Regions from separate parts of the Homo sapiens genome. Here all the other regions are linked to region 3. Evidence: fine-mapped expression QTL. A gene starts in region 3. Each other region holds a variant in brackets. All regions are shown on one strand. Distances are from middle to middle.

Region 1 (5,803 bases), 34 kb after region 3:
GCAGACAAGCAAGCATGTTCCCTGAGTCAAAAGGGACACACCAGCTCACACAGCGCGACCTCTACCTGATGGGAGCCCATAGTGTACCGAGAAGGCCACAGCAATGTCTTCCCTGATTCTGGACGTCCACTGGAGGCCAAGGGCCGTCAAAGCCCCAGAGGGTCCATGTCAAGTCTGGCTTCCTTGGAGTAAGTTCATTTTTGTGTGTGTGTTTCTTGGGAGATCCCAACAACCGCGCATTCAGCATTCAGAACAGATGGCCTTTATTTCAGCAGGTGTTTCTGGCTGACAGCTTATAGAAGATGGGCATCACAAATAGCATCAGCCTCTACAGAAAGGGGGAGAAAGACAGCTGGGAAAGTTGTAAGGAGCCCCAGAGCAGCTTGTTCTCCCTCGCCATGGGCGGTTGGTTCTCCCTTGGCCCACGTCCTCAATCTGAAATACTCATCCCGCTCCTCTTGTCCTTTACCTTCCTCCAAATATGGCTCAGGAGCAATGTCCTCCTAGAAGCCTTACTCTCCCTGAAATCTAAACACAAACACAGTAGATACATGATCTTTCCTCCAAGCCACCAGAACCCTAAAGACATGCATCAAAAATCTGAGATTGCAAACAAATGGAAGTGCAAAAATACAACATTCATGTGCTGTTGGAAGTTTTGGTCTGGGCCGGGTGCAGTGGCTCACACCTGTAATCCCAGCACTTTGGGAGGCCGAGGCGGGTGGATCACCTGAGGTCGAGTTCAAGACCAGCCCAACCAACATGGTGAAACCGCGTCTCTACTAAAAATACAAAATTAGCCAGGCGTTGTGGTGCTTGCCTGTAACACCAGCTACTCGGGAGGCTGAGGCAGGAGAGAATCACTTGAACCCAGGAGATGGAGGTTGCAGTGAGCCGAGATCACGCCATTGCACTCCAGCCTGGGCAACAAGAGCAAAACTCTGTCTCAAAAACAACAACAACAACAAAGGAAGGTTTGGTCTGGACTTACTAAGAACCAGTAGTATGCAATGAGATTTGGCAGGACTCCAAGGAAGATGCTCTTGCTTTCTGGCTTAAGCCAAGAGGCTGTAAGGTTTGAACTTGCTGCAGTCTCACCTTGTGATCAATGGAGAGTCAGATAGTAGCAGGGACTGAATGCTAAAAAACCGACAGGGAGCTGGGCACAGTGGCTCAACCTATAGTCCCAGCTACTCAGGAGGCTGAAGCAGGAGGGTCGCTTGAGCCCAGGAGTTTGAGGCTGCAGTGAGGTATAATCACACCACTGCACTCCAGCCTGGGTGACAAAGCGAGACCCTGTCTCAAACAGACAAGAACCACAAAGCCTACAGGGGCTGGGCTGTCACAAAATGTAAGCAGGTTCGGTTTAGAGAAAAAAAACAACACAAAGCACTAAGGAATGATGAGTTTCTACTTAGCCTCCAAGTCAGTGACAGTCAGGGGTAATGGGGAGTATGGTGATTTGTGGAGTTCAAAGTTAGCCGCTGCTATGTGACTCCAGCCTGTTATTGCCATGGAAGAAGAAAAGTAGAGCATTACTAGATCTTTTAAACAGTAGCCAGAAAGTCATGTTTTCATTTTTATTTATTTATTTGGAGACGGAATTTCGCGCTTGTCACCCAGGCTGGAGTGCAGTGGCACAATCTCAGCTCACTGCAACTTCCACCTCCCAGGTTCAAGCCATTCTCCTGCCTCGGTCTCCAAAGTAGCTGGGATTACAGGTGTGCACCAGCACACCTGGCTAGTTTTTGTATTACTAGTAGAGACAGGGTTTTGCTATGTTGGCCAGGCTGGTCTCGAACTCCTGACCTCAGGTGATCCACCTGCCTCGGCCTCCCAAAGTGCTGGGATTACAGGCATGAGCCACCACACCTGGCCTAAAAGTTGTGTTTTTATGTAGACTCTCCTGAATTTTACACATTTGTACTTAAAATATTCAAAAAAACAGGCCTAAAAAAATATGGCCATGGGCTAGAATTCAACCCCTGGACCATAAGCTTGTGATCCCGGCAAAGCAAGGCCATCCTGTATGTTTGTACTTGCTCAAGGGGCTCACATGAATCACCAAGCTGTATGCCCAGGCTTGAGACAGTCTCAATGTGGACGAAGAAAACCTTTTTCCTGGTTGGTCTGCCAAAAGGATGGGTTTCCTTTTCCCAGTTTGTACAAAGGTGCCTGTATGTACCAGCAGTTATCCTGCAGCCAAGATAAACCGCCCAATAGTAAGGCTACTGAGAGGTTTCCCAGGACACAGGACTTTCAGTGATAAAACGGGTGCAGTGGCTCGTGCCCGTAATCCTAGCACTTTAGGGAGGCCAAGGCGGATCTGACAAGTTGGTCACCCTCAACATGACTGTGCCCAGCCTCTGTTCATGATGTTAATTTCTTTGGTTCTTTGGTTAATTTCTTTGCGGGATCTGTGCAAGCTGTTCTGTTAAAAGTTAAGTAGAAGTACATTTGCTTATAATTACAACTTACAGTAGATTTTATGAAGGAAAATACAGGGTTTTATGAGCTAGATTGATGGGAAGAACCCACACTTGTAGCCAGGTGGTAGGTACAATTCATGCTGAGAAAAGGGTGCCAGGTGCCTGTAGCC[G/A]ACCTCTGCATCCCCTATTCCTGCTCCAGGCAGGCAGCCTCCTGCCTACGCCCCTGTGACTCCAGCTGGGCCAGGCCAGCCTGGGGTAGCACGTAAGACATCCAGGTCAGCTAGTAAATACTCCTTTTTTTTTTGAGATGGAGTTTTTGCTCTGCCGCCCAGGCTGGAGTGCAATGGCGTGATCTTGGCTCACCGCAACCTCCACCTCCTGGGTTCAAGCAATTCTCCTGCCTCAGCCTCAGCCTCCCGAGTAACTGAGATTACAGGCACATGCCACCACGCCCAGCTCATTTTGTATTTTTAGTAGAGACCATGTTGGCCAGGCTGGTCTCCAACTCTTAACCTCAGGTAATCCACCCGCCTTGGCCTCCCAAAGTGCTAGGATTATAGGCATGAGCCACTGCACCCGGCCTACTCCTGCTTTTTTTAATTATCATTGGTGGGTACTAGTGTTTGGCCCAAAGACCACATTTCTCTATTCAGCCTCTCCTCTGCAGACAGTTTTTAAACTTGTGTGTGTGTGTATATATATACATACATACATATATGTATATATATATATATATATATATATATACAGTCAGCCCTCCGTGTTCATGGGTTCTGCATTGCTGGATTCAACCAACTGTGGATCGAAAACACTCGAAAAAAAATCGTGCCTGTACTGAACATGTACAGACATTTTTTGGGGGTCAGTATTCTCTAACCAATAGAATATAACAATTGTTTACATAGCAATACATTGTATTGGGTATTATAAGGAATCTAGGGATGATTTAAAGTATACGGGAGGATGTGTATGGTTCTAGGCAAATACTAAGCCATTTTATATCAGGGACTTGAGCATCCTTGGATTCTGGTATCTGAAGGGGTCCTGGAACAAATCTTCTGTGGATACTGAGGGAATCCTATATCTATATTGGTCTTTTTTTCCCCTACACAACAGTAATGGAGAGAAACAGCCAGCTCTCCTACTCCTTTAACATCTTGGATTAATCAAAACAAGTCAGACAAAGACTTACCTGCTTATTCCAGCTCAGGGTCGGGAGTGGCCACACAGTCCTTCACAGCAGCCTAGGGCACCAGGTGGGACCCGCCCTGGCCAGAACACCCTCCTGTCCTAGGGCGACTCATAGTCACCCACATTCACTCACACTTACTCACACTCACCCTCAGTCACACACACACCCATATACACCCACATACCTTTGCCTCGTCTGTGACTCCCTAACAATATTTCTCTAGCCTGGAAGTCCTCCCTTCCCTGACCCAGTTCTTTGGTATCATATGTGAGAGCATTATCAATAAATATAATGGGGGCCGGGCGCAGTGGCTCACACCTGTAATCCCATCACTTTGGGAGGCCGAGGTGGGTGGATGCAGGTAACTAAATCCACAGAAAGTGAAATCGCCGATAAGGGGGGATTACTATATATATGTACATGTATATATAGAGAGAAATACATTAGGAGAGAGACAGAGAAGGAGAACAGTAAAGTAAATATATGGAAGACTGGGCACGGTGGAGTTGGAGACCAGCCTGGCCGACATGGTGAAACCCCATCTCTACTAAAAATACAAAAATTACATGGGCGTGGTGATGTGTACCTGTAATCCCAGTTACTCAGGAGGCTGAGGCAGGAGAATCACTGGAACCTGGGAGGTAGAGGTTGCAGTGAGCTGTGATCGCACCACTGTACTCCAGCATGGGTGACAGTGAGACTCTGTAAAAATAAATAAACTCCAAAAAATAAATGTAATGCGTTTCAATTATTTATACAAAAATTTCAGGAAAAATATAAAATAAAAAATTATTATTTTATTTTATATTTCCACATGCTAATTTTAAAATTGTTGCAATAGGCCGGGCGTGGTGGTGGTGCACATCTGTAATCCCAGCACTTTGGGAGGCTGAGGTGGGTGGATGGCTTGAGCCCAGGAGTTCGAGACCAGCCTGGCCAACATGGCGAAACTACTACTAAAAATACAAAATTTAGTGGGCGTGGTGGCAGGCGCCTGTAATCTCAGCTACCCAGGAGGCTGAGGTGGGAGGATCACTAGAGCCTGAGGAAGTCGAGGCTACAGTGAGCCCAGATCACACTACTACACTAGAGCCTGGGCAACAGAGCAAGATGCTGCCTCAGAAAAAAAAAATTGTAACAATATAATGTGGACGCGTATTTATTTTCAAGACTGTTTAACTGTTGCCTCGGTCAACTCTGTGCTGAGATCTTCTTGCAAGCATGAAGTGAGCTCCCTCCCTCTGTAATTCTCACCTTTGAATGGCCGCACAGTTCCAGTTTGTTAACAGTGCTGGCTGCGTGGGTTCCACCCTTGGCTCTCCGGCTTTCTAAGCTGATGAGCTTGTGTGCTCCCTAACTTCTCTGTGCTTCAGTTTGTCCGTCTGTAAAGTGGGGACAGGAGCATGAGTCGCCACCTGGTGGGGTTTTATGTACAGTATTTTGTATTTTCAGTAGAAACAGGGTTTCACCATGTTGGCCAGGCTGGTCTTGAACTCCTGACCTCGGGTGATCCACCCACCTCGGCCTCCCAAAGTGCTGGGATTACAGGCATGAGCCACTGTGCCCGGCCCACAGAGTGTTTTCTATAGGGTCCTCCATGGTCACTATAGTTAGCTAGAAACTACAGATACTACTTAGCCCTGAGCTTTCTGAATGTCAAGGATAAAAGGGAAACAGTTTCATACTTTAAACAGGCAAAAAGAGAAACTCTACAACCTTTGGAAAAAATTAAAGCTTTTATAGGTTTTAATTGTAAGAATTTGCTCATATGAAGTTTCACAATTGGGATGCAGAGGTTTAAGCCTCCCACAAGTATAGTAATGGATTTCATAAGATTATTTCTTCTATTCATTTCATTTTTGAAGTAATTTCAGACCACAAACAATTGCAAAAAATGTACAAAGAGGTTGCTAATACTCTTCATCTAGATTCCTCAATGTTGTATTTGTTGTATTTTCCCATATATTCACTTTTTTTTATTTTTCTGAAATGGAGTTTCACTCTCGTTGCCCAGACTGGAGTGCAGTGGCTCAATCTTGGCTCACCTGCAACCTCTGCCTCCCGGGTTCCAGCGATTCTCCTGCCTCAGCCTCCAGAGTAGCTGGGATTACAGGCACATGCCACCACATCTGGCTAATTTTTGTATATTTAGTAGAGATGGAGTTTCACCATGTTGGCCAGG
Region 2 (5,803 bases), 43 kb after region 3:
CCGGTCTTGAACTCCTGACTTCAGGTGATCCGCCCGCCTCCGCCTCCAAAAGCGCTGGGATTACAGGCGTGAGCCACCGCGCCTGGCCGTCCCTGTGTTTTTTCTTGCACGCAGATCATCTAAAAATTATTTCAAATCAGTAACATCTTTGGGCAATGATGAGGGAGGGGGACGGAAAAAACAAGCCCTATTTTATGTTCCCTCAACAATCTAAATGTTACTTAAGCTATGCTTTGTTTATGGTTGTCTGTATACTTTGTGGAAAGACAAACAGGACAGTCTGACCCTGAAGATATGGGTTGCCTGGCAACAATCTAAATGGGACCAGAACCTCCCCCCTCCCCCTGCAGGAGGGGCTGTGCCCAAATGGAACTTCTCACAAGGTCAACAGGTGCTGGCAACAGGCTCTCCAGACAGCGAACTGCCTGAACAGCTGTCACCTAAGCCCAGCCTGCCCGATGCCCAAGCAGACATTTTGTTCCCCCTGGCAAGGCCACTCGGGTTTGCCCTTTAAAAAGAGAACCCAAATGAGTGGGGGCGGGGCCTTGAGGCCTTTCCTTGCAGTCCGGGGCTGTCTTAGTCCAACTAGCCGGACCCAAGCGTCCCTCCGCAGAGGTCTGAGGGGTGGAGACTGATCTTGCGGCATCTCTGCGTGTGAGTGCCAGCCTGCACCAAAAGACGCACTGTTGTCTGCCCAAACCCTTTCAGTGACGCGTTTTGTAAAAATCATCTATGTTTTCCCCCAAATAGCTGTCATCAGTGAAAAGCATCAAAGAAAATCCAATATATGACCACAGAAGAGATAATGCAAAAACTAAAACTGTTCCAAAATAATGCAATAAATATGTTTTCTAACACATGCAAATCAATTTTCTAATAAGATTTGTATGTATGTGTTAGCAAACCTTTATTAGGAACTAAGAGTTAATTCAATGTTAGTTAAACAGTGTGTAGGAAATACTAAGTCAAACTTCTGGAAGTGATTGCGAAAGAAAATCAATGTTTCTTTGAAAACAGATAGTTACAGAGACAGTGATGGTTCATTATGTCTCAACTTGGCTTGGCTGTGGGGCCCAGCTGCTTGGTTAAACACTAACTTGGATGTTGCTGTGAAGGTATTGTGTAGATGTGATTGATACGTACAATCAGCTGACTCTGAGTAAAGTAGATTATCCTCTTGAATGTGGGTGAGCTTCATGCAATCAGCTGAAGGCTTTCAGAGCGGAGACTGAGCCTTTCCCGAGAAAAAAGGAATTCTGCCTCGAGCCTGCAGCACAGAAACTCTGAGTGAGTTTCCGGAGGGCTTGGCCTGCTTTGCAGATTTCGGACTCGAGACGGTAACATCAACTCCTGCCTGAATTTCCAACCTGTGGGCCTGTCCTAGAGATTTCAGACTTGCCGGCCTCCTCAATTACTTGAGCAATTCTTTAAAATCTCTCTCGCTGTCTCTTTGTATGTGTATGTATACATACACACATACATATATATCTCTTATTGGTTCTGTTTCTCCAGAGAACCCTGACTGATACGATTATTTATTCTATTAAGCATTTTACAGAAGTTATTTGAGCAAGAAATGTTTAACAGCTGAGTTTTTCTTTTTCTTTTTTTTCTTTTTTTTTTTTTGAGATGGAGCCTCGCTGTGTCACCAGGCTGGTGTGCAGTGGTGCGATCTCGGCTCACCGGAACCTCCGCCTCCCGGGTTCAAGTGATTCTCCTGCCTCAGCCTCCCGAGTAGGTGGGACTACAGGCGCCCGCCACCACGCCGGGCTAATTTTTTGTATTTTTTAGTAGAGACGGGGTTTCACCGTGTTAGTCAGGATGGTCTGGATCTCCTGATCTTGTGATCTAACCACCTCTGCCTCCCAAAGTGCTGGGATTACAGGCGTGAGCCACTGTGCCCGGCCTCTATATTTACTCTTACTGTAAATGTCATGAGTCAAAGAAATTCCTCAACTGCACTTGGTCACTTGTTTCAATGTCAAAATATATTTAATGTAATTTTGTCTGAAAGTCTAATTTGACTTTATTTTACTGTCATCTGAACATATTCTCTCTTATTTTCCACTCAATGTGAAGATTAAAGTCTCAATCTCTGTGGACTATACAGTAAAGGAATTAAGCCATATGTAATACTACCTTTTCCAGCCAACAGTAATTATCTTAATCAAATTTAGGATAATATGATATTTGGATGATTTCACATTTAGTTCTAAGTAGTAGTATTTAAGAAAAAAACAGGCTGGGCCCAGTGGCTCATGCCTGTAATCCCAGCACTTTGGGAGGCCAAGGTGAGTGGATCATTTGAGCTCAGGAGTTCGAGACCAACCTAGGCAACATGGTGAAACCCCGTCTCTACAAAAGACACAAAAATTATCCCGGTGTGGTAGTGCAGCCCTGTGGTCCCAGCTGCTCAGGAGGCTGAGGCAGGAGGATAGCTTGAGCCTAGGGTGGTCAAGGCTGCTTTGAGCCAAGATCAGGCCACTCTGTACTCCAGCCTGGGTGACAGAGCCAGACTGACCTTGAAAAAAAAGAAAGAGGAAGGAAAGAAAGAAAGAAGAAAGGAAGGAAGGAAGGGGAGGGAAGGGGAGGGAAGGAAGGGAAGGAAGGAAGGAGACAGAAAGAGAGAGAGGAAGGAAGGAAGGAAAAGAAAGAAAAAGAGAAGAAGGAAGGAACAAAAAGAAAGAGAAAGAAAAGAAAGGAAGGAAAGGAGGGAG[G/A]GAGGAAGGGAGGGAAAAGAAAGAGGAAGGAGGGAGGGGAAAAAAAGAAAGAAAAATAAAAGAAAAAAAGTAGGGCTTAGTGGCAGTCCCTGTATTGTTTTCACCTGGCAGGCCGCGTAGTGTGAGGAGAGTGGAGGGGTCTGGCCAGGAGGGGAGACTGAACACACACAAGAGGGATTAGTCCAATAGTGAAACATATTGAAAGTGGTGGGAGTCAGGCTTTTCATTGTTGGAAATGAGCTGCAGGGTGAATGATAAGACAACTAATCTGAACCTTATGGTGTTGGATTGGAATTAAAGGCATTGGTGCAAACTCATGGTTTTGAATATATAGATAAGGGTCGGGTGCAGTGGCTCACACCTGCCTTTAATCCCAACATTTTGGGAGGCCAAGGTCGGAGGATCACTTAAGGCCAGGAGTTTGAGACCAGCCTGGGCAACACAGTGAGGTCCCTTCTTTACAAAAAAATTAAGAATTAGCCAGGTGTGGTGGTGCACACCTGTAGTTCCAGCTACTTGGGAGGCTAAGGTGGGAGGATCGCTTGAGCCCAGGAGGTTGAGGCTGCAGTAAGCCAAGATCGTGCCACTGCATTCCAGCCTGGGTGACAGAATGACACCATGTCTCAAAAAAATTATATAGATAAATAAAGATATAATATATTATACAAATATGTGTCTATATTATGTATAATATGTAGATTTAAATGCAGATGAGTGTGTATAATCCTGGATTATGGGGGGGAGGTCCCCAATGTGGTCACAAGGGCGCTTACACAAAGCAGCCATGAGGAGCAGAATCAGAGAGAGGATAAACGGATGAAAGCAGAGGTCAGAGAGGAGGGAAGGTGCTATGCTGATGGCTTGAAGATAGAGGAGGGGGCCATAGCCCAGGAATGCAGGCGTCCTCCAGAAGCTAGAAGGCAAGGGAACGGCTTCTTCCCTGGTGCCTTTAAGAGGAACACAGGCCTGCCAGTGCCTTGATTTTAACCTAGTGACACCGATGGGGAACGTCTGGCCTCCAGAGTTACAAAATAATACATTTAAGTTGTTTTAACCCGCTAAGGTTATGGTAGTTTGTTATAGCAGCACTAATACAGTATGACACACAATAGGACACTAATGCAAGTGGCAACAAGTAAATGGAGAAAAAAATGATGCAGTTAGAAAAATCACTGTTTGGTCATTAATAAGGCAATAATTAAATCATCCAAAAATATCAATGGAAGCTAAAATCAGTGAGTCAATGTTTGATAAGAAATGGAATATTGAGGCTGGGCACGGTGGTTCACGCCTGTCATCCTAGCACTTTGGGAGGCCGAGGTGGGCGGTTCACCTGAGGTCAGGAGTTCCAGACCAGCCTGGCCAACATGACGAAACCCAGTCTCTACTAAAAATACAAAAATTAGCCGGGCGTGGTGGCGGGCACCTGTAATCCCAGCTACTCGGGAGGCTGAGGAAGGAAGATTGCTTGAACCTGGAAGGTGGAGGTTGCAGTGAACTGAGATCACGCCACTGTACTCCAGCCTGGGCAAGTGAGTAAGACTATCAGAAAGAAAGAGAGAGAGAGAGAAAGAGAGAGAGAGAGAGAGAAAGAGAGAGAGAGGGGGAGGGAGGGAAAGGAAAGAAAAGAAAGAAGAAACAAAGAAAGAAATGGGATATTTAAATAGTCCCACGTTTCCTTACTGATTCCAAAACATTAGTCATGCACAGTGGAGAAATCTGACAAATACCACCTTAATCAAGTTGATCTCAGCAGAAACGGACAAATCAGAATCATTTGCCACCTGATAGAAGGCAGCGAGAAGACAGCCTCTAGATTGAAAGTGAGTAGAGACATGACCAGTGAAAGCAGCGGGAGACCCTGTCCTGGATCCTTTGACTATAAAGGATACGACTGGTGCAATTGGAGAAACTGGGGTGGAATCTGTAGAGTAGGTGGTAGGAAGATTTCATTGTTAATTTCCTGATTTTGCTGGTGGTATGTTTGCTTGTGTAGGAGAATCTCCTTGTTTGTAGGAATTACAAACTAAAGAATTCAGAATGATGGGGCTTTGTGTCAGCATTACTCTCACATGGTTCAGGGAAAAAAAGTCCTACTATTCTTGAAAATTTCAGTATGTTCGTAATTGTTTGAAAATCAACAACAACAAAAGAGGTATAGGCTCCAGGGAAGATTTTGTCTCCTTGCCTTTCCTGGCTTTTGCATTTCTTTACTCAAGGCCCCTTCCTCAATCTTCAAAGCATCTTCGCCTCTCTCTGACCTCTGTGCCCATCCTTACATCTTCTCTCTGACCCTAACTCCACTGCCTCCTTCTTGTAAGTACACTTGTGATTACTTTGGGTTCATTAGGATTATCCCGGGTGCACATTGCTTATTTTTTTAAACAATATATCTTAAGGGTCTTTCCCTGTCAGATCTTTTAAACATAGTTTTCCTTACTATAAATAAACTGTAATTTATCCATTTCTCTATAAATTGTTTCTAATTATTAGCCATTGCAAACCATGTTATGTGGTATATTCCTGCACTTGTATTCTTCTGCATGTGTCAATATTTCTGTTAAGTCAAAGAACAATTGCTGTACGAAGACATGGGACATTTTGTTAGATGGTGACAAATTGTCATCCCAGAAGACTGTACTTTTAGACTCACTCTGGGTGCACTGCCGAGGAGTTAGCTCTGGAGCAACTAAGGAAAAAAAAAAAAACAGAAACAACTATACCTTTAGATTCCTACCAACAGGCAGAGACCATTCACCCATACATTTACTGAAACAGGATAGTATCAGCTTTCAAATGAGTAAAATATGGTATGTTGTCATCATTCTTTTTGCACTAATCTACTAGACTACTAGAGAATTTGAGCATCTTTTTATGTGCATAAGGGCCATGTGTGTTTCTCTGACTATTAGTATCCTTTACACACATCTCTACTTGATGTTTATGTTTTCCTATTTTTATATGCAACGTGGCAGCGAGACATGACAATCGGCAGTCAGCCTTTTAACTAAGGTCTGTGTTCATTTCTGTTGACCCTGAGCTTGGAGTTTCTCTGGGGCTCTGTTTGGGAGAATGGCACGCCTCTG
Region 3 (5,803 bases):
CTATGTTTATCCCGAACAAGACTGTCATTATATTTTTAATATAATCTTACTTGCAAAAGGATGTAACAACATGAGGTTCTTTTTTTTTTTTTTTTTTGAGACGGAGTATCACTCTGTCACCAGGCTGGAGTGCACTGGCCCAATATCAGCTCACTACAACCTCCACCTCCCGGGTTCAAGTGATTCCCCTGCCTCAGCCTCCCTAGTAGCTGGGACTACAGGCATGCACCACCACACCCAGCTAATTTTTTGTATTTTAGTGGACAGGGTTTCACCATGTTGGCCAGGATGGTCTTGATCTCGTGACCTCAGGCGATTGCCAGCCTTGGCCTCCCAAATGAGGTTCTTTTAAAAGATAATCTATACCAGCATATTACAGAGAATTCAGGTAAGGCACAAGTGGCTCATGCCTATAATCCCAGCACTTTTGGAGGACAAGGCCAGAGGATTGTTGAGGCCAGGAGTTCAAGACTGGCCTGGGAAACATAGTGAGATCCTGTCTCTAAAAGAAATAAAAAAGAAAATAGCCGGGCATGGTGGTGCTCACTTGTAGTCCCAGCCACTTGGGAGGCTGAGATGGGAGGATCACTTGAGTCTAGGTGTTTAAAGTTACAGTGAACTATGATTGTGCCACTGCACTCCAGCCTGGGTGACAGAGCAAGATTGTGCCACAAAAAAAAAAAAAAAAAAAAAAGTTATTCCAAACAAAATTATCACTACATTTTAAATATAATCTTATTTGAAAAAGAATGTGTCATGAGGCTCTTTTAAAAGGTAATCTGGCCGGGCGCGGTGGCTCACGCCTGTAATCCCAGCACTTTGGGAGGCCGAGGCGGGCGGATCACAAGGTCAGGAGATCGAGACCATCCTGGCTAACATGGTGAAACCCCGTCTCTACTAAAAACACAAAAAATTAGCCGAGTATGGTGGTGGGCGCCTGTAGTCCCAGCTACTCGGGAGGCTGAGGCAGGAGAATGGCGTGAACCCGGGAGGCGGAGCTTGCAGTGAGCGGAGATCGCGCCACTGCACTCCAGCCTGGGCGACAGAGCGAGGAGACTCCGTCTCAAAAAAAAAAAAAAAAAAAAAAAAAGGTAATCTACACCAGTATACCAGTATATTATGGAGAAGTCTAACACAATCTTTGTGAAAAGTGAGGCACACTTAGGCTAATACCTAATCCCCAAAACATGGAATATTTTCAACTGAAAGGTTAATTTAGGAAAGACTATTAGTCTTCTCATGTTTACATACTGAAAGAACAACAGGTATTCAATAAATGATTTGCAAAGCTTGCCAGAAATGTCTACAACAGATTGTTTTAGAATTGTTTAAATATTTTTAGGACAGGATTAAGTTATGAGGGCAAAGGATTGCATGTTCAGAGAAAGAAACAGTCTAGTTCTGGGTAATGTAGGAATGAAAATTAAAAAGGGGTGACCAGGCTGGGTACAGCGGCTCACGCCTGTAATCCCAGCACTTTGGGAGGCCAAGGCGGGCGATTCACGAGGTCAACGGTTCAAAACCAGCCTGGCCAATAGGGTGAAACCCCGTCTCTACTAAAAATACAAAAATTAGCCGGGCATGGTGATGCGTGCCTATAGTCCCAGCTACTCGGGAGGCTGAGGCAGGAGAATGGCTTGAACCCGGGAGGCGGAGATTTCAGTGAGCCGAGATCGCACCACTGCACTCCAGCCTGGGCAACAGAGCAAGACTCCGTCTCAACAACAACAACAAAAAACAAGTGACCAAAATACAATACGGGCCCCTTTGCTTAATATGAACGAGTCTAGACTAGAGGCCATTTCCTGTAATAACTCCAGAGGCCCAAAAGACATAGCTGTGGTCTTTAAATATGGAGTTGAAATAAGAGGAACTAAAAATGACTGTCATCCAATAGAAATACAAGTCACATAAATAAATTAAAAATTTCTAGCAGTCATATTAAAAAGTAAAACGTGGATGGAATTCATTTTAATATTCAATTTAACGCAGTACAGTATGTCCAAAATATTATCATACTGACAATAATATAAAAGTTATTAATGACATATTTTACCTTTTTTTGTACTGAGTCTTCAAAATCTGGTGTGTATTTCACACTCACAGCACATCTCAATTCAGACTAGCCTATTTCAAATGCCTGATGTAGCTACTGGCTACAGAACTGGACAGCAGAGATCTAAATTATGGGAAATGTGTCCCAAAATTGCTGCACGAAAATTGTATCAGAAAGTCTTGCCACATTCTCCTATGTCACCTGAAATGGTCGTGCTTATTCTGCAGCAAAGGAATTTGAATGAGAACCCCGATAACGCACAGGCGCAGATCGAATGGATTTCAATGACAGGCTGGAAGGAGAAATTTTCAGATATCCAATGGAGCAACCAACGAAACTATACACGAAAGGAGGCGCAGCTATAGAAGGTGAATAATGGATGGGAGATCAAGTAATGCAAGGGAAGTAAACTGGAAACTAGCGTGAAAGATAAGAAAGGTGACCCAATCAAATTGGCAACTAAAAAAACCCCAAAACCTAATGTGGTTACTTTTTTTTTCTTTTAACTAACTGGAAGTTCAGGGTGTTAGGACACAAGGCTGCTAAGAATGGGATTCAGAGATGTTCAACTACAAAACGAACAAAAGAGGAACGACAGTGTGGGGACGAAATGATGTTTCGATGTTAAAGATGAGAAGCAACAATCCAACGTAGGAGAAACACCGTCCCCATGGTCCCAGTATCTGTTCTGGTAGCTCCAGTGAGGAAAGGTAGAGAAATAACCTTGCAGTCCCTAAAGGCAGATATCTTCCTCCTCTTATTCCCCCGTCTTAAACCTGGGAGGCCCTAGAAACGGGTGCGTCTTTCCTCGGGTCTAAAAGAGAAGTGCCAGGATTGCACCCGTCGATGGGATTGCAAAACGCAGGCCCCCAAACCAGCATTGTTAAGAGCTAGCTCTCTTCCTCGGCGGTCCCGCCTGGCCCCGCGGGTCTCCGGGCCCGGACTCACCCAGGCCCCACGCCCCGGGCCCGCTGCAGCTGAGGCCGGTCGCCGCCAGCCGGGAGAAGACGAGGGGAGGCGGGGGGATGTCACAGAACGCCGTGGCCCGTCCCCACCGCCGCAGCCCCACAGCCAGTTCCAACAGGCGAGACTTCCCTGTACCCACCTCCCCCGGCACAGGAAGCACTTTCTGGGCCTGAGTGACCGCGCTCTACACCAATCGCTGTCCCGGAACTTTACGCCGCTCCTCCAAGCGTCAGGGAGACGCTGCACTTCCCAGGCCCCACCAGCCGCGGCTCCGGCTCGTAGCCCACAGCCCACTGCCGGCGGCTGGGCGCTGCCGAGGCTCGGGGCGCGCGCAGTTGGCGTCTGCCAGTGCCAAGACTGTGCCGCCCCCACAGCCGAGGCGCGAAAGGGGGACGCCCGGCCTCTGGGCCGCTGCCTTCGCTTTCTCTTCGTTGTTGCGAACGCCGTCCGCTCAGGAGGCGCCCCGCGACCGGCGCGATGAGTGCCAACGAGGACCAGGAGGTGAGCCCCCCGGCTCAGGGCCCTCTCCCAGCGCGGGCGCGGCGCGCAGCCCCGGGCCCCCGTGAGACCTGGTGCCCGGACAGCCTGCCCGGCACGTGCCCTGTGCCCTCGGAGCCGGCCGGGGTGCCCCGAGTTCACCGGCGTCCCACCCAAGCGCGCGTGAATGGCCAGGAGTCCGCCTCTGCCACTCTTCCCCCCTCATTTTTCATTTTTGCAAATCCGGGAGTCTCCCCTGGTTACTTAATAACAGGGATGAGCGTCCTTGGTGCACGATCCAGTGCTCTTGGCTCTCCTTGAATCCCATGTGTTCAGTGCCTGTTTACTGAGTTAGGCTGATCACCTTTAAATTTTAGTCTGGTCATCTTTAAATCTCTTGGCTAGTAGAGGGCTAATTGAGTTAGTTACATTTCTCATGGAAGAAAATGACACTGGTGGTGCATCTGAGTTTCTGTCCATATTGTTTGGGGAAATCTTTTACCCATCTGTCTGTTTTGAGCATTCATGTACCACCTGAATTTATGGTTTATGCTCAAATATTTCCTTGTGAGATGCCATTTTGACATTGAATCATATAATATTAGAGTTGGGGGGTGGGTGCTACGGGCCATCTGTAGGGGAACCTTCTAACTTTGATAGGTGGGTCGATGATAGCCGCAGGGCTGCACAGTAAGTACGTGGTAGAATCGGGACTAGAAACCAGGTCTTATTGGGTGGTAGATAAGTTCACTGTTAATTTAAAGTATAATGCTTGAAACTTACTACTTTTACATGATAAATGTAATAGAATCTCTGGATTGGAAGTTAACCTTTAAAGGACCCAAAGTCCAACAAGCTAGCTAGTTGATATCTGAATCTCTTCTAAAATATTCTTGCCGGGTGAATTTCTAAGTGAATGCGTTAATAGCTTCTTCTCCCTGCAAAGCAAAGAACATACAGTGTAATGTTTCTCAGAGTTGGACCATAGTCCCCTACCTTAGAACCATTTAGATGGTTGCTAGAAAACAGATGCGTGCACTCCACCCCAGACCTACTGAATCAGAATTTCTGTGGTGGGCCCAGGAATCTCCAGTTTAACAAGAAAATTTCATTCTTCTTTCAGATGACCGATGTTCTGATCTTTGAAGATAGTTTCCTGCCCAGTTTCTCAGACCTTCTCTGAGGAAGTGGTTCCTTTTAGCTTGTCTTCATATATCCATTCTTTGTTAATCTCTTCACTATCCTGGAATCACGTGTTTGTGGACAGATTTTAATTTTTTAAATGTCCTGTTTCAAAATTGTGGCATCTTGCTGTTTTGTCTAGTTAAATTTACTGTCAACTGAAATCTTTTAAGTGCTTTATACAAAGCAATTTGTCTTTCATCTTCAACTTCTACATTTAGGTATCTGAGTATTGATACAAGTTCTACTTACCCTGCTAAATTTCATCATTAGCTTGCTTTTCAAAGACTTTTTGGATTCTTATTCAGCCATCAGCATTATTCACTGTCCCAACAAATTGTCATCCACAAATTTAATAAACTTGCCTCCTATTTTTGTACCTGTCCAAGTCATAAATTAAAATATGGGAAAGGATTAGGGACAGAAGGAGTAGTACTATATCTTGAGTAAGGTTTTTGTTCCAATCTAATCTTAGTTATTCTTGAATCCGGCTTGAATTTCTGTATTTTGTTTTTTTTTGTTTTTTCTGTAAAGGTAGCAAGAGAAACCTGTGGAGCCTGGCTGAAATCTATATAGTCGGTGTTTTATGCCTTTCTTCATTGTGCCAATCAAGTTTCCCTATCTAAGAAGGGTATATCTTGTTTTTCATATACTTACTAGGTCTTAGGGTCTACTCCTTAATGTCCCAGTTCCTCACACACTGTTTCTTCAACAATGTCTTTTTGCTGTTGTTGTTGCTATTTTTGAGACGGAGCCTCGCTCTGTAGCCCAGGCTGGATTGCAGTGGCCCGATCTCGGCTCACTGCAACCTCCGCCTCCTGGGTTCAAGCGATTCTCTTGCCTCAGCCTCCTGAGTAGCTGGGACTACAGGCGCCCATCACCACACCTGGCTAATTTTTGTGTCTTTAGTAGAGATGGGGTTTCACCGTGTTGGCCAGGCTGACCTCGAACTCCTGACCTCAGGTGATCCGCCCGCCTCGGCCTCCCAAAGTGCTGGGATTACAGATGTGAGCCACCGCGCCCAGCCAATAATTTCTATTCTAAAATTTTGACTGTAGATCAAGCCCACTTTCACCATCTTTAGTTTGTAGAATTCATGACATGCATCTTTTTGAAAAACTT
Region 4 (5,803 bases), 24 kb after region 3:
GGTGAGCAGAGATCACACCATTGCACTCCAGCCTGGGCAACAGAGCAAGACCCTGTCTCAAAAATAAATAATAAATATAAAAGTCATGCTATGTAGTAACAATAGAGATTTGTGTTTGCGTGTTTTTACCTTTGAATATTCCAGAGTGAAAACAGAACAAGAGGGATTGGACATCTAAGATTCAAAATTTCAGTATTTTCAGTTAATGTGACAAAAAAATAAGTAATATGTAACCCAGAGTGATTTTCAAATTTGTGTTCCTTTAGTGAGGAAATTAATTAGGGGTCTTTACTAACATTTTTTAATGGAATGGGAGACAATAGAATTGAACAGAAAATACCAGCATGCACTACCTGTTGTAAGAGGGTTTTTTTTCCCTGTGAAAACTTTAGTTTGGGGTGTGCATGTATGGGTACTGAGTCACTATGTAAAGTTTATTAAAATGAGTCATGAAAAAAGTGTGAAAGCCACTGATCAGAGCACGCGAAAGATGAAACGACTTTTATATGAAGATTGTTAATTTTCAGAGGCACAAAATGTGCCTTTCAAAGGGCTAAGGACTTTTATCATTGATTTTTGCATTATTCCTGAAGATCAATTAAGTAAAGCTACATTGCACAATATGAGGAGAGGAGCAAGTGTTTGATTGAGAATGAGATCTTTAATGACTTTGTAAATTTGTAATAATGAAAATTCTTGCATGATAATTTTTGCTTATATGAAGAGCTGAGAACATTTTAAGAGGCAATGCCTGAATAAATAAGTAATTTTAATAGCCTTAATTTCTCACTAATGAGAACCAAAAATAAGAAAATTATTTTAACTTTCCCATTTCTAGAGGAATACCATTTTTGCTTGCTGAGCTTCCTGTATAAATCTAGTTTCCAGAATAAATTGTCGTAATAGGTTGATTGTGGTGATACAGTAAGGCAGGAAGCGTCCCCACCCCTGCCCGTTTTCTGTTTGTTATTGCTGGCACCTGGGAAGTTTTAAGTGATCTTGCCTGTTTGGCTGCAGCCTTCTGGATCTATAATAGGTCCTTTTCTCTGCCTGCCACGAAGTCTGGCCTGTTGGGAAACTATTCTTGATATTTTAAATAACAAACTACGTCTATGCTCTGTTGTTAGTGAAAGAGAATCCAGCTTAGAAAAGAAGGAAACTGTTGGGGAGTGGAGGGGGGGATGCAGATTTAAAATATTTTGCTTCATAATTGGGTGATTAGAAATCAACCTTAAAAGTTTAACACTGGGGCAGTTTTTAGAGTACACAAAGCAATCGGGGAAAATCTTTGTGTTTAACATGGCGGTGGAATTGACTAAGGAGGAAGCTTTTCCTCCTAACTGCTCCGGCTCTTCATTCTCCTGCTCCTACGGCAAGAAGACGCTGCATGCCATATGTTTGTTTTTACAGAGGGCAGTAGGTGTTCTGCATTGCTTACAGTCAGTCTCATCTGTGAAGGAACATACGAAGATTTGGACCCTGGAGCCTACGGGAGATTTTCATCTCTGAGGCTTCTTCGCAGAAAGCCAACACTTTAGCTTTCATATTCTCTTCACTATCCTTTGTATTACTAAAATCACACTTTTTTCAAATATCTACGCAACAGTATGATTATTTTTAAAACACAAAACTATTGGCCTGGTGTGGTGGCTCATGCCTGTAATCCCAGCACTTTGGAAGGCCAAGGCGGGAGGATCAGCTGAGGTCAGGAGTTCGAGACCAGCCTGGCCAACATGGTGAAACCCCATCGCTACTAAAAATAAAAAATTAGCTGGGTGGCCTGCAGTCCCAGCTACTCAGGATGCTGAGGCAGGAGAATCGCTTGAACCCAGGAGGCAGAGGTTGCAGTGAGCCGAGTTTGTGCCTCTGCACTCCAGCCTGGGTGACAGAGACAGACTCCGTCTCAAAAAACAAAAACAAAAAAACTATCAAACCTTTTCCTCCCCCTTCTGTTTTTCTGAAGATCGCTAAACCTACCATTGTCACTTTGCCATTTCACTTGATAAATTACACTAACAAAATATTCTTTACCTCCCACGGGCATCTCACAAATTTTAAATTGATAGATGTTAGTTTTTTTTGTTTGAAATTCTCATGATAACTGAGGAATCATGCAGTTTTGGTTATAAGAATGTCCGTCCATCTGCTGAAGGAAAGCTGAACTCCCGCTGCATGCTGACAAATACCATCTGTTACATTTTTCCGTTGGTTTCTATATTTTTCTTTTTATATGTCAGTGTTTTAAAATTTCTTATTTTTTATTTTTATCAAAGTCATACATGTAGATAGTTTTAGAAGGCAAGTAGTTCTGCAGGGCTTTTAATTTTGTAAAAAAAAGATCTTTTTCCCTTCTCTCACAATCTCCACCCCGCGGGGGTAACTAGTTTCGGCTACTTTTAGCGTGAACTAGTCTCTAAGGCCATAGACTCCTGCTAGCTCTGGCCCTCCCCTCGTCTTCCCCAACATGATCCTGCCTGTGGCCTTTGTTCTGGCTGTTTCCTCTGCTCCAAGTCTGCTTTTTACTGAGTGAGGCGGAAAGCCTTCAGAGGGTATGTATTGAGCGGAGGAGTGAGGGGATCTGACTTGTGTGTTGAGAATAGGCAAGCAAGAGGGAAGGCAGGAAGGCCAGTTAGGAAGCTGTTGAGGAAGTGGGTGAAGAATGACGATTCCTTGACAAGGGTGGGAGGTGGGAGTGGGTGAGAAGCGGTCAGTTTCTGGATATATAGTGAAGGAACTGCTGACGGGCTTGCTGGTGAATCCAACGAAGGATGTGGGAGAGCTAGAGGCATCGAAGCTAACTCCAAATTGGATTTTAGCCTAAGCAATTGAAAAAAAATCAATTGATAATGATACTAGTTTTGTTTAACTGATCCTATAAATAAGGCAATCCTATAAATAAGTAAGGTAATCCCAGTGAAACTGCAACTGGATTTTTAAAAGAAAGAAAAGCTGACTCCAAAGTTCTTAAGGAAAACTAAGCATACCAGAATAGACAAAAAAAAAAAATTTTTTTTCAAAAACAGTGATGATGTGAGTTTAGTTCTTTCAATTAGTCAAACATGGCCCAGCGCAGTGGCTCAGCCTGTAATCCCAGCACTCTGGGAGGCCGAGGCGGGCGGATCACTGGGTCTGGAAATCAAGACCAGCCTGGCCAACAATAATGAAACCCCGTCTCTACTAAAATACAAAAATTAGCTGAGTGTGGTCGTACACACCTGTAGTCCTA[A/G]CTACTTGGGAGACTGAGGTAGGGGAATTGCTTAAACCGGGGAGGTGGAGATTGCAGTGAGCCGAGGTCACACCACTGCACTCCAGCCTGGCGACAGAGCAAGACTCCATCTCAAAAAAAATAAAAATAAAATTTAGTCAAACATTTCCAGCAGCAAGAATTAAAGTGATACTGTGCTGATACCTGCTCAGATCAATGAAAGAAAATAGAGCCCAGAAATAGACCTAAATATATATATATGAGAAAATTTAATATGCAGTTTCTTCAATGTATGGTATTGGAGAACCAAAGAGCCACTGGGGGAAAAAGGAAAGGTACTCCTATCTCACTCTTAACATCGCAGTAAATTCAGAGAGATGAAAAAAACTTTTAAAATAAAATGGATTTGTAATCCCAGCATTTCGAGAGGCCAGGATGGGAGGATTGCTTCAGCATAGTAGTTTAAGACCAGCCTGGGAAACATAGTGAGACCTCCATCTCTACGAAAAATTTTAAAAATTAGCCTGGTGTGGTTGCATGTGCCTGTAGTCCCAGCTACTCAGGTGGCTGAGGTGGGAGGATCGCCTGAGCTGGGAAGGTCAAGGCTGTAGTGAATCTGTGATCATGCCCGTGTGTTCCAGCCTGGACAACAGAGCAACACCCTGTCTCAAAAAAAAAAAAAAAAAAAAAAAGAAAGAAAAGAAAAGAAATGGAGATTTTAAAAATAGTTTCAGGATGAGACAACCTTCCCAAAGTATGACACAAGACTCTGAAGCCATAAAGAAAATGTTACATTTGATGACATAAATGTAAAAAATTGTGCGTGGAAAAAATTGCATAAATAAAACTAAGAAAAAGTACTTTTAGTATACTTATACATAAAAAACTCTTAGATGTGACAGTTTCAGAAAAGGAAATGTAAATTTATGTTAAACAAAAGGACACACCCTCATCACAAGAGAAACTAAAACTGCAGGGAGATTCTGTTTTTCTCCTGTGACACTGGCGAAGACTGAATAGCTTGGTGACATATCAAAGGTGTGAGGAAACCGGTTCTCTCTCACAAGTTGTTTTGAGTGTAAGCTAATGCAACCTTGACAAAGGACAATTCAGCAATATCCATCAAAATCACAAAGGCCTTTGGTCCAGAAATTCCACTTCTAGAAATTGTTTCCACGTCTGTGCTTGTCTGTGTGAAATGATCCATGTACAGGGATAAAGTCTTGTGTCATTACTTGCCCATACTCATCAGTATCTTCAGGTATGTCCTGGGTCAAAGGAGCCGGATTAGACAGGGGATCAAAGAAAAGCATTTGCATCAGAGTAAGGGGGATGTACGAGAATGCATACCCTGCCACATTATTTGTGTAGATGTAAGAAAATGATGTCTTTCGGCCGGGCAAGGTGAGTCACACCTGTATAATCTCAGCACTTTGGGAAGCCGAGGCGGGCAGATCACCTGAGATCAGGAGTTCGAGACCAGCCTAGCCAACATGGTGAAACCCCGTATCTACTAAAAATACAAAAACTAGCTGGGCGTGGTGGCAGATGCCTGTAATCCCAGCTACTTGGGAGGCTGAGGCAAGAGAATCGCTTGAATCCAAGAGACGGAGGTTGCAGTGAGTCGAGGTCGCGCCACTGCACTCCAGGCTGGGCAACAGAGCAAGCCTCAGTCTCAAAAACAAACAAAAAAAGAAAATAATGTCTTTCCACTATAAAGTGGAGAATTATTGAGAGAGTCAGTCCACCACGGGCCCCGGGACCCTGCGTGTCTTTGCAGACTATGCCAACCTGCAGGGCCCACCACGCTCTGACCAGGGTGTAGCCATTTGTGTAGCTAGTCGTAGAGGCAACCACAGCACGACTGCCAGGCCACTGTTTGTCCCATAGGGAGGAGACTGGATTGTTACCACTTGCTATCAAAGGTGCAGAGCCTGGCCTGTGCCACGGGACTTGGGGTCAGGAGACCAAGCTCTGTCATGCTGAGCTGCTGTCGTGTGCTGTGCTGAGAGTAATGAATTGTCTCGCTCGGATCCACCAAGTCTTATCTACTGCCGGCAACCATGCGCTGTGGCAAGTCCATCGGCTTGCTTGCTCGGTCATCTCCTTTGGGTGTTGTTACTTCTGGCCATCCTCTGTGAGGTTGGGGTTCATCCCTTGATGGGAACAAGAGTACCGTAAATTACAAGGTTGTTTAAGAGATTGGAGAAAATGTTTGTAAAGAGCCTAATACTATAAGAGTAGGCAATAAGTGGTGGTGATTATTTTTAAAATAAATACTTTGTCACCTTTGTTCTAATCAGATGTCCTTGAATATTAATATCAAATGTTTTCCGGTTTATAAAATCTTGGCTGTTATTCTAATACATAAATGATCAAAACAGAGAAAAATACATTTTCTAAACCTGTGTGTTTCAGGCAGGCTGGTTTGTAACCTAGTAGTGGATACAAATTCAATTTAGGGCTGGGCACAGTGGCTCACACCTGTAATCCTAGTACTTTGGGAGGCCAAGGCAGGTGGATCACCTGAGGTCAGAGGTTCGAGACCAGCCTGGCCAACATGGTGAAACCCCTTCTCTACTAAAAATACAAAACTTA

Which allele goes with the higher level. Alleles are on the strand shown, and positions count from the first base shown. SD is a standard deviation of normalised expression in the study named. Not every link is listed here.
For the expression in pancreatic islets of the gene that starts at base 3,267 in region 3, allele A in region 2 goes with a higher level than allele G (moderate effect, 0.69 SD a copy in PISA).

What was found. PIP is the estimated chance that this variant, and not a neighbour inherited with it, causes the effect.
Region 1: its variant is the best candidate, but not a certain one, in a credible set for the expression of RWDD4 in whole blood (INTERVAL, PIP 0.63).
Region 2: its variant is the best candidate, but not a certain one, in a credible set for the expression of RWDD4 in pancreatic islets (PISA, PIP 0.55).
Region 4: its variant is the best candidate, but not a certain one, in a credible set for the expression of RWDD4 in whole blood (INTERVAL, PIP 0.78).

What each region holds. Positions count from the first base shown.
Region 1 is chr4:183,622,687-183,628,489 of GRCh38, reverse strand. No RefSeq gene overlaps it. Among named protein-coding and RNA genes, the nearest start is that of RWDD4, 34 kb to the left of the region's middle. The variant G/A (reference allele first, on the strand shown) is at 2,600.
Region 2 is chr4:183,614,132-183,619,934 of GRCh38, reverse strand. No RefSeq gene overlaps it. Among named protein-coding and RNA genes, the nearest start is that of RWDD4, 42 kb to the left of the region's middle. The variant G/A (reference allele first, on the strand shown) is at 2,718.
Region 3 is chr4:183,656,649-183,662,451 of GRCh38, reverse strand. It overlaps RWDD4 (RWD domain containing 4), which reads left to right and starts at 3,267. Exons shown (of 8, transcript NM_152682.4): 1 at 3,267-3,523. The coding sequence starts at 3,500. It overlaps TRAPPC11 (trafficking protein particle complex subunit 11), which reads right to left and starts at 3,159. Exons shown (of 30, transcript NM_021942.6): 1 at 3,005-3,159. RefSeq lists silencers at 2,848-3,137, 3,508-3,717, 3,532-3,752 and enhancers at 2,484-3,271, 3,228-3,357, 3,272-4,060.
Region 4 is chr4:183,632,281-183,638,083 of GRCh38, reverse strand. No RefSeq gene overlaps it. Among named protein-coding and RNA genes, the nearest start is that of RWDD4, 24 kb to the left of the region's middle. The variant A/G (reference allele first, on the strand shown) is at 3,227.